Linked DNA regions of Homo sapiens. The protein of the gene in region 2 purifies or fractionates together with the protein of the main gene of each other region. This does not show direct contact. Each region holds a gene or a part of one and is shown on either strand. Other genes may lie near its edges.

Region 1 (4,300 bases), on a different chromosome or scaffold from region 2:
AAAGTCCTGCCTGGTCCCTGAGACCATCATATTCTATAGTAATATAATCTGCATCAATGCGTCACACCCCAATCTGGAGCAAGGCATGCTCCACCAGCCGTGATCCCACCGCCACCAAATTTTGTGGGCCTGTGAGGACCCACCCTCTAGCTTTCTTAGGTCTACACTGAAGAGTCTTACGTTCTTGGTCATCAGAGCAAGAGGCAGACAGTCCCCGCCGCAGAAGATGAGACAAGGCTGGAGGAAGTGAGGCGACTTTCCCAGAAGAACAGGACCAAAGCTGGGCTGAGCCAGGGCCTCCTTCCCTGGATTCACATGCCCCACACCTGGACCTTTGCTTTTTCTTTTTATTGTGGGATTTATTTTATTTTATTTTATTTTATTTATTTATTTTTGAGACAGAGAGTCTCAAAAAAAAAAAAAAAAAAAAAAGGACCGTGGTCTTTCTTTTTTTCTGTCGCCCAAGTTGGAGTGCACTGGAGTGATAATAACTCACTGCAACCTTGACCTTCCAGGCTCAAGCAATCCTCCAACCTCAGACTTTCCAGTAGCTGGAACTACAGCGCTATGCCACCATGCCCTGCTGATATTTTGCATTTTTATAGAGATGGAGACTCCCCATGTTTCCCGGGCTGGTCTGTAACTCCTGAGCTCAAGTGATCCACCCAATTTGGCCTCCCAAAGTGCTGGCATTACAGCAGTGAGCCACCACAGGTGCCACAGTTTTATTTTTATTTATATATTTATTTATTTATTTATTTTTGTGAGTTTTGCTCTTGTTGCTCAGGCTGGAATGCAATGGTGGGATCTCTGGCTCACCACAACCTCCTTCTCCCGGGTTCAAGTGATTCTCCTGTCTCAGGCTTCGGAGTAGCTGGGATTACAGGCACCCGCCACCACACCCGGCTAATTTTGTATTTTTAGTAGAGACAAGGTTCTTCTATGTTGCTCAGGGTGCTCTCAAACTCCCAACCTCAGGTGATCTGCCTGCCTCAGCCTCCCAAAGTGCTGGGATTATGGATGTGAAACACTGTGCCCTGCCTCACCTTGACCTTCTGATCCAACAGAGTCTGGGGGAGCAGAGCCAGGGGCAGGTGTGTCTTCAGGAGTCGTGGGGCCGGTGTGTCTTTCAGAGTCTCCATCCCTGAGCAGTGGGTCAGGGAAGGTCTGGTGAGCTGAAGCCCCAGCCCTGTCTTCCTCCACTCCCCTTGCACCCAGGACACACTCACACACCTGAGGGAATCCCTGGGGCTTTGAACTCAAGGAAGGGCACCCGCATGAAGATGGGAGCTCGGTGACACTTCTCCAGGTCACCACCCTGGTAGATCATGTCCAGAATCTGGCTTACCCAGGTAGTGCCTGGAGAGGGAGGGAGATGGGAGGTGAGCAGGCTGAGGGCACGACCTCGCTGGCCAAGGTGGGGACTGCCACCTGGGAGAGGGTGGGTGGCCCTCCTCACTTACCGGACTTGGGGTAGGTGCTGATGAGCAGGTCATCAGGCCGGGCCTGGAAGCTCTGCAGGGGCCCCAGTGCCTCTGCAAAGTACTTGATGAGCGGGACCCCCTTCACGTACTCCAGTGGCGGGCGGGAGGTGTCCTGGATCAGCTCCATGTTCCTGCGTCAGGGGCCAGAGCCAGGCCCGTTCCCTTACCACCATCACAACAGCAAGAAAGTGGAATTCTTGCTTTCAGGGAAGTCACTGAGGCCTAGGGAGGCTGAGTGACTTGCCCGCACTCACAAAGCCACTCAGTGGCGGGGCTGGGGCTGAAAACCAGGTCGGGCTCTAATGCGGTGGTTCCCCAGCCTGGCCTCACCTTTCATTCACCTGCGGAGCTGTTCAAAATCCCAGGGCCTGGGCCATGGTGCAGACCAGTGAAAGCACCCTCGTCGGGCAAGGCCCAGATGTCAGGGTGTGTGAAGGTCTCCAGGAGAGTCCAGCTGCACTGAGGAAGCTCTAGGACCTTCCTGTGCTGTCTCCCTGCCAGCCAGCGCCCTTTGTCTCACCACTTCCTGCTGGGACCCCCAGCCTCCACCCAGTGGAGATGCTCCCCTCCTTGAGCCCCTCAGCCCCTCACATGTGGAAACCGCCCAGGCCAGCCAGGCCTGTGATCCACTTGCCTGGCCACAGTCCATCTGGGCTCCAGGACAAACACGGCCCATTGAGGAACTGAGCTGCTACTAGGGGCCAGAGCTGCTGTGGGAATGAACAAAACTCTGATGACTCAGCAAAAGCACAGGCCTAGGCAGGGTGGCTCCCACCTATAATCCCAGACCCTAGGGAGGCTGAGGCCAGGAGTTGGAGACCAACCTGGTGCAGCATTGCAAGACCCCATCTCTAAAAATCTTTAAAAAAATTCTTAAACATTAACCAGGCAGGATGATGAGGGCCTGTAGTCCTAGCTACTCCAGAGGCTGAGGCAAGAGAATCACTTGAGCCCAGGAATTCAAGGCTGCAGTGGCCAGGATCCCACAGCACTCCAGCCTGGGTGACAGCAAGACCTGGCCTCCCCGGGGAAAAAAACAAACAAACAAGGGAAGGGAGGGGGATTCACGCAGGCCAGGGTTGTCTGAAATGGGATATCCATGGGGAAAGGGCAGGGATGCCAGAGGCCTCAGCTTCTGGAATGTTAGAGCCACAAGCTGAGCAGGGTGAGGGCGCCCTGGGCCGTTCCACTGTGTCACTCACCTGAGCTCTTGGGAACCTGGCCTCGTGCCCTCCTCGCCCGCAGTGGCTGATTGTGGGTGTTGTGTGGGGAATGCAGGGTTGTTCTCTGAGCTGAGGGTTTCCTAGGTCCACTGTGGGAGGGATCTGGAGCCGGGGCTGGACTTAGATTTGCTTCCGGAAGGAAGGGGTGGGGTTGGGGGTGGGGGAGCTTCTCCATTACCCTCCTTAGTGTGCCAGCTGGAGACAAGCTTAAAGTGATCTCCAAAGCCACGACTGAGTTTGCTGTGTAGAAAACAGAAGAATGAAAGGGGAAAGGCCCAATGGTGGGTTTGTTTTTGTAGGTTTTTTTTTTCTGTTTTTTTTTTTTTTTTTTTTTTTTTTCCGAGCTGTCACTGGGCTCCTGACCTGCCCCTGAACTCCACCCTGCCAGGCAGCCAACAGACAAGCTCTCTCTAATTGACCCAGGCAAGAGAGGGGAGGGATTGGAGGAGAAAGCTGGGATAGGCAGGCCCTGGAAAGGTCACCTACCTGCTGGCTCCAGGCCAGTCTTGAAGGTGCCAGGGGTTCTGGCCCAGTGCAGCCCACAGGCCCCCAGCAGCCCATGCACTCCAGGCTCTGACCACAAGGCCAGTCTAGAGGGATGTGTGTGGGCAGAGTGAAGGGGCAGGGGTGGAGCAGAGCATGGATGCATAGAACAAGAAAGAACAAGGACACTGCAGTCCCATTGCCCTGGGAGTCAGCCCCAGCTTCATGGCTCCTGGGGACCTCAGAGAACATTGATAGAAGATCCTAGAAGAACCACAACCCGTGGCAGGTGGTTTTATTTCCCTGGGTTTGAAGGAGGCTCCACAGACAAGAGACCAGAGGAGGCCGAGGTTTGGAAGCCACAGGGCCCCGTGGAAGGGGGGCATCCCCCCATCCTCCTCGTTCTTTATCCTCACTTTAAAGTCCAAGGTCAAGCTGTGCACGAGACAGGTAAACAACCATCTGAGTAAAGGTGAATCTCCCAAGACTTCCAAGAAATGCGTGAGTTCAGAGGCAAGCGGACAGGTGGGAGTGTGGGGGAAGCTGAGGCATGGGAATTCCAGGCAGAGGAGAGGCTTCTCATATGCTAGGGCCATGGACCCCTCCTCCCTCCTCTGTGCCCATGAGGAATCCCCGTGACTGGCAGGTCCTCAGGCTACTAGCTCCACCCCTGCCCTCAGCAACCCTCAGGAGGTTCCCTTGACTAAGACTTTGTATTGCACTCTAGTAACAACCTGTCGGACCCACACGGGGTGACACAGAAAAGAGGCGAGAATGTGAGATTAATAGAGTGGTAGCAAGTGAATACAAAATCCCAGGCAGCAGTTTCACATGAGGAGAAGAAGGAAACTTGAAATAGCTGCATGCGCTAAGGGCCAATAAGTCCCTGAAAAATAGGATGAGGACCAAGCTGGCTACGACCAACCAGACACAACATGGCGCTGTATTTGATGTAGGTTTCACCTAGGATCTCATTGTATGATCAGTAACATATGAAACCGTACACCCACCAGTGCCAAGACGGCTCCAGGAACACCTGTATTTGGGTGTAAATTGTGGCACCACGGTCTTGAGAAATCTTTACCTTTTCCTGGACTCTTCATGAATATA
Region 2 (3,500 bases):
TTACTTGAGACAGGATCCTTAAAGATCCCTAGGCCCTGTCTGCAAACCATTATTTTATGACTCTAACACTGAAGAAAACCTTCTCTGTGAAAACTGCAATTTGAAGACCATTAACCTGCTCCCAGGTGAAGCGCACGGAGGATGGCACCACCACCAGGAGCGGCCACTCCTTCCGGTAAAAGGCTGCGATGCAGATGGCTTGGATGGTCTTCCCCAGGCCCATGTCGTCAGCGAGCAGCAGGCGGCCTCCTTTGGCTATGGCAAAACTGAAGGCAGACAAGGTGAGGATGGCACATTTCCCGGGGCATGAGTTCATCTGCCCTCATGTCCGGTGGGTCAGCACTGCTGGGTGAAGGCCACTTCACTGGCCAGCCCGGGCCCAGCCCACCACCAGACTTGCTCCCCAGAAGGAAAGGTACATAGGCCAAATAGGGAGCAGAATAAAAAAGAGAGAGAGAGAGAGAGAAAGCCCAAAAAGGAAAAATGTGGAATGTGGTCAAAAGGGAGAAGATCTGGAAGATGATTAGGTCGTGGAGGCCAAAGAAGGAAGTTTCCAGTGAGAGGAGTTGCCTCGGCCCACTGTAGGCAGGGCACAGGGGACGTACATGGAGGAGGGTGGTGGGAGTCCAGGACTAGCACTGAGGAGGGCATGCTTACTCACTCCAGAGTCTGCCTTGAAAGGAAGGAAAGGGTCGGGCGCGGTGGCTCATGCCTGTAATCCCAGCACTTTGAGAGGCTGAGTGGGGCGGATCACCTGAGGTCAGGAGTTTGACACCAGCCTGACCAACATGGTGAAACCCCATCTCTACAGGCACATGCCCGTAGTCCCAGCTACTTGGGAGGCTGAGGCAGGAGAATCGCTTGAACCCGGGAGGCAGAGGTTGCAATGAACCGAGATCACACCATTGCACTCCAGCCTGGGCAACAAAAGCGAAACTCCATCTGAAAAAAAAGAAAAAAAGAAAGGAAGGAAGGAAAGAAGAGCTGGTAGGGTGAAAAGAAGGCTTTCTGAAGATCAGAGAGTACTCAGTATGCATAAAGGCAGAGAAAGGGGCTGGCAAAGACAGAAGATGCTGCTAATGAGGACAGAGGCGAGAAAAGGATGGGAGGAAGGGTGCTTGTCCAACAGGAAGCACCAACCTCAGCACTGAGTTTTTCACTATGGCAGCCTCCAGGACCCTAAAGCCCTTAAGTGCAGCATCCCTTGCTAATAGTTCATGAATAAAGGTGTATTCCACTATTTCAGAGCCAGATTGGCTGGGGTTGGAGTCCCAATTCCATCACTCAGCAGCTGTACACCTTCATGCACATGATTTAACCTCCCTATGCCTCAGCCCCCTCAGCAGTAAGAAGGGAGTAATAACAGTACCTATCTCATGGAGCTGTGGGAGGGTTAATAAAGCTAATACTGAAAACAGTGGTTGGCAACATCATAAGTGCTAAGGAAGTGCTTCTATCATAACTACTATTCCACAAAAAGAAAAAGAATCAAAACACAAACAGTAAAAATGACTTGCTCGTGTCGCATGATGAAACAGTGAAAAGCTAAAAGGATCCCAAGTGCCAGATGTCTGGTCCTCTGTGCCAAATACTAGTCTTCTTTCATCTAATCTCTGAAAAATAGATCATTTGCTCAGAATCCTGATAATAAGCCGCTGGGATAGTTCTTTCTCTTTCCTTCTCACACAGTGAAAACAGAGAATGTCACCTCTTCTAATCAGCAGCTAGCAGGGCGGACAAGAAGTCTAGGCTGCACTTGCCCTTTCTGAATTGCCTGGAAACACCGTTTCCAAAGATGGAAAACTGGGCAGCAAATCCCCAGGCAGCCCGAAGCCAGTAGAGTGTGGGGACAACAGGCATCATGGCGTGGCACCCTTCTGTTCTCCCTGCAGCCTGGGCGGGGGCCTGCCTAGGAGAGGGGGCAGCCCTTCCCAAAGCCCAGCTTTGGCGGCCTCACCCTCCACTGGGGAGGAACGGAGCCGAGCAGTGGGCTGCCTCACCTCTCCAGAACAGGCGCAGCCTCCTCCCTGTACACCCACCTCTATGAAATCTTCTGGACCATTTCTGGGATCAACCCACAACACAGACAGATGGGGGGAGGGCAGGTGTGAAAAGATGTATTTTTTACCTCACTTTCTGATTTACAAAATTGGTGGCCAGCGAGGACAGGCAGTACCTAAGCAACGGAATCCATGGAGAGCCCCACGCCCTTTGAGCGTCTTTTGTTTCAGCCTTCTCAGCTTTACCATCTATAATTTCCAGAAGTTTGGTCTATCCGCATCCTTAGAGCAGAATGGACCCCCTGAATTTCACATTCTCTCCTTTTTCCCCTGCCTAGAGGGAGCCCAACTAAGGAACAAAGTGGCCAAAAAATGACAACAAAGACAGAAAAAGCCTGGATAACAGAGGAACAATAACATAAGTAAATGTCATCCTCCACAGGGCAGTTGAATACAATAGAAAAAAATGTCATACTCAGAAATTAATCAATCAGAAAACACAGATTTAAGCCCCAACTCCACTTCTGACTGCTGAATAACTTTAGGCAACTGACTGCCTTTCTAAGCCTCAATTCATTCACCTGCTGAAGAGGGTGACTTGGATATTAGAAGATGCTGATATTTCTAAGAGATTTTGCTTTATAAATTAATGGGTGTGTTCAATTGTAGTTCTTGCATTAAAGAAAACAAAACAAAACATAGAATTGACAGCCCTCCTCCCCCAATGCCAAACCCCCACCTCTTCAGACTATGAAAGTTAAAATCTGAGTTTATTTAGAAAATTCTGAAGAAAGATTACAAGTACTTTAGAGCCACAGAGAGAGAAACAGATCTGCCCTGGGGCGCCTCACACACAGAGCCTCTCTCAGGGGTAATGGGGTAACTGGTAAAACCAGCACCCAACACGTGGGCCCAAGGATGGCTAACAGTGCCACGAAGAACTTGGATGCTGAAGGCAGGGGCTGCCCAGGGGGTGGGGCTGGGCAACCTCTACTGCAGCTTTAATAAAGAGGCCCAGAGAAAGAAAGATGAAAGGAAAAAACCACCCTGAGCCTGGTTAAAACAAGGCCCAAAGGACATCTCACCAGCTGGAGCATTGGAATGGCAATGCCAGAGGAGGTTTTGCAGAGTGTGCTATGTAAGAGAGATGGAAGGAAATGAAGAAAAGAATTAGGGGGAAGGGCTGGGGCCAGGTAACATAATAAAGTGCACTGTGCCCAAACGGCACACCGAGACCCAAATCCTGCCAGAGACGGTAGCCAAGCTTTCACCAAAATACCACAATCAGGCTTCGAGCAGGCAGGCTGTTGTGGTTTGTCAGTGCCATTGTTAATTTAGGTTCCTTCCCTTGCACAGGGCTCTATGTTCAACTACACTGTCTAATAACAGCTTCTTATTTCTAGACAGACTATCAAGACTTCCTCTTTCTTCTCCTTGAACTCCCATATTTTTAAGAGAAGGCTAGTTCAAATACGGCATTTTGCTTCTCCCAAGAAACTC

Evidence for each region. Proteins that work in one complex are often made in the same cells at the same time.
Region 1: the proteins of SMARCAL1 (region 2) and SULT1A1 fractionate together in Homo sapiens (co-fractionation; one large-scale study listed by BioGRID). This does not show direct contact.

Annotation. Positions count from the first base shown.
Region 1 is NC_000016.10:28,607,245-28,611,544, forward strand, and holds the start of SULT1A1 (sulfotransferase 1A1), read right to left. Parts: upstream 2,801-4,300; 5' UTR 2,687-2,800; exon of another isoform or gene 1,616-2,686; 5' UTR 1,612-1,615; coding exon 1,464-1,611; intron 1,360-1,463; coding exon 1,234-1,359; intron 1,145-1,233; coding exon 1,047-1,144; intron 1-1,046. UniProt on the Homo sapiens protein: Sulfotransferase that utilizes 3'-phospho-5'-adenylyl sulfate (PAPS) as sulfonate donor to catalyze the sulfate conjugation of a wide variety of acceptor molecules bearing a hydroxyl or an amine group.
Region 2 is NC_000002.12:216,429,484-216,432,983, reverse strand, and holds part of SMARCAL1 (SWI/SNF-related matrix-associated actin-dependent regulator of chromatin subfamily A-like protein 1), read right to left. Parts: intron 267-3,500; coding exon 116-266; intron 1-115. UniProt on the Homo sapiens protein: ATP-dependent annealing helicase that binds selectively to fork DNA relative to ssDNA or dsDNA and catalyzes the rewinding of the stably unwound DNA. Rewinds single-stranded DNA bubbles that are stably bound by replication protein A (RPA).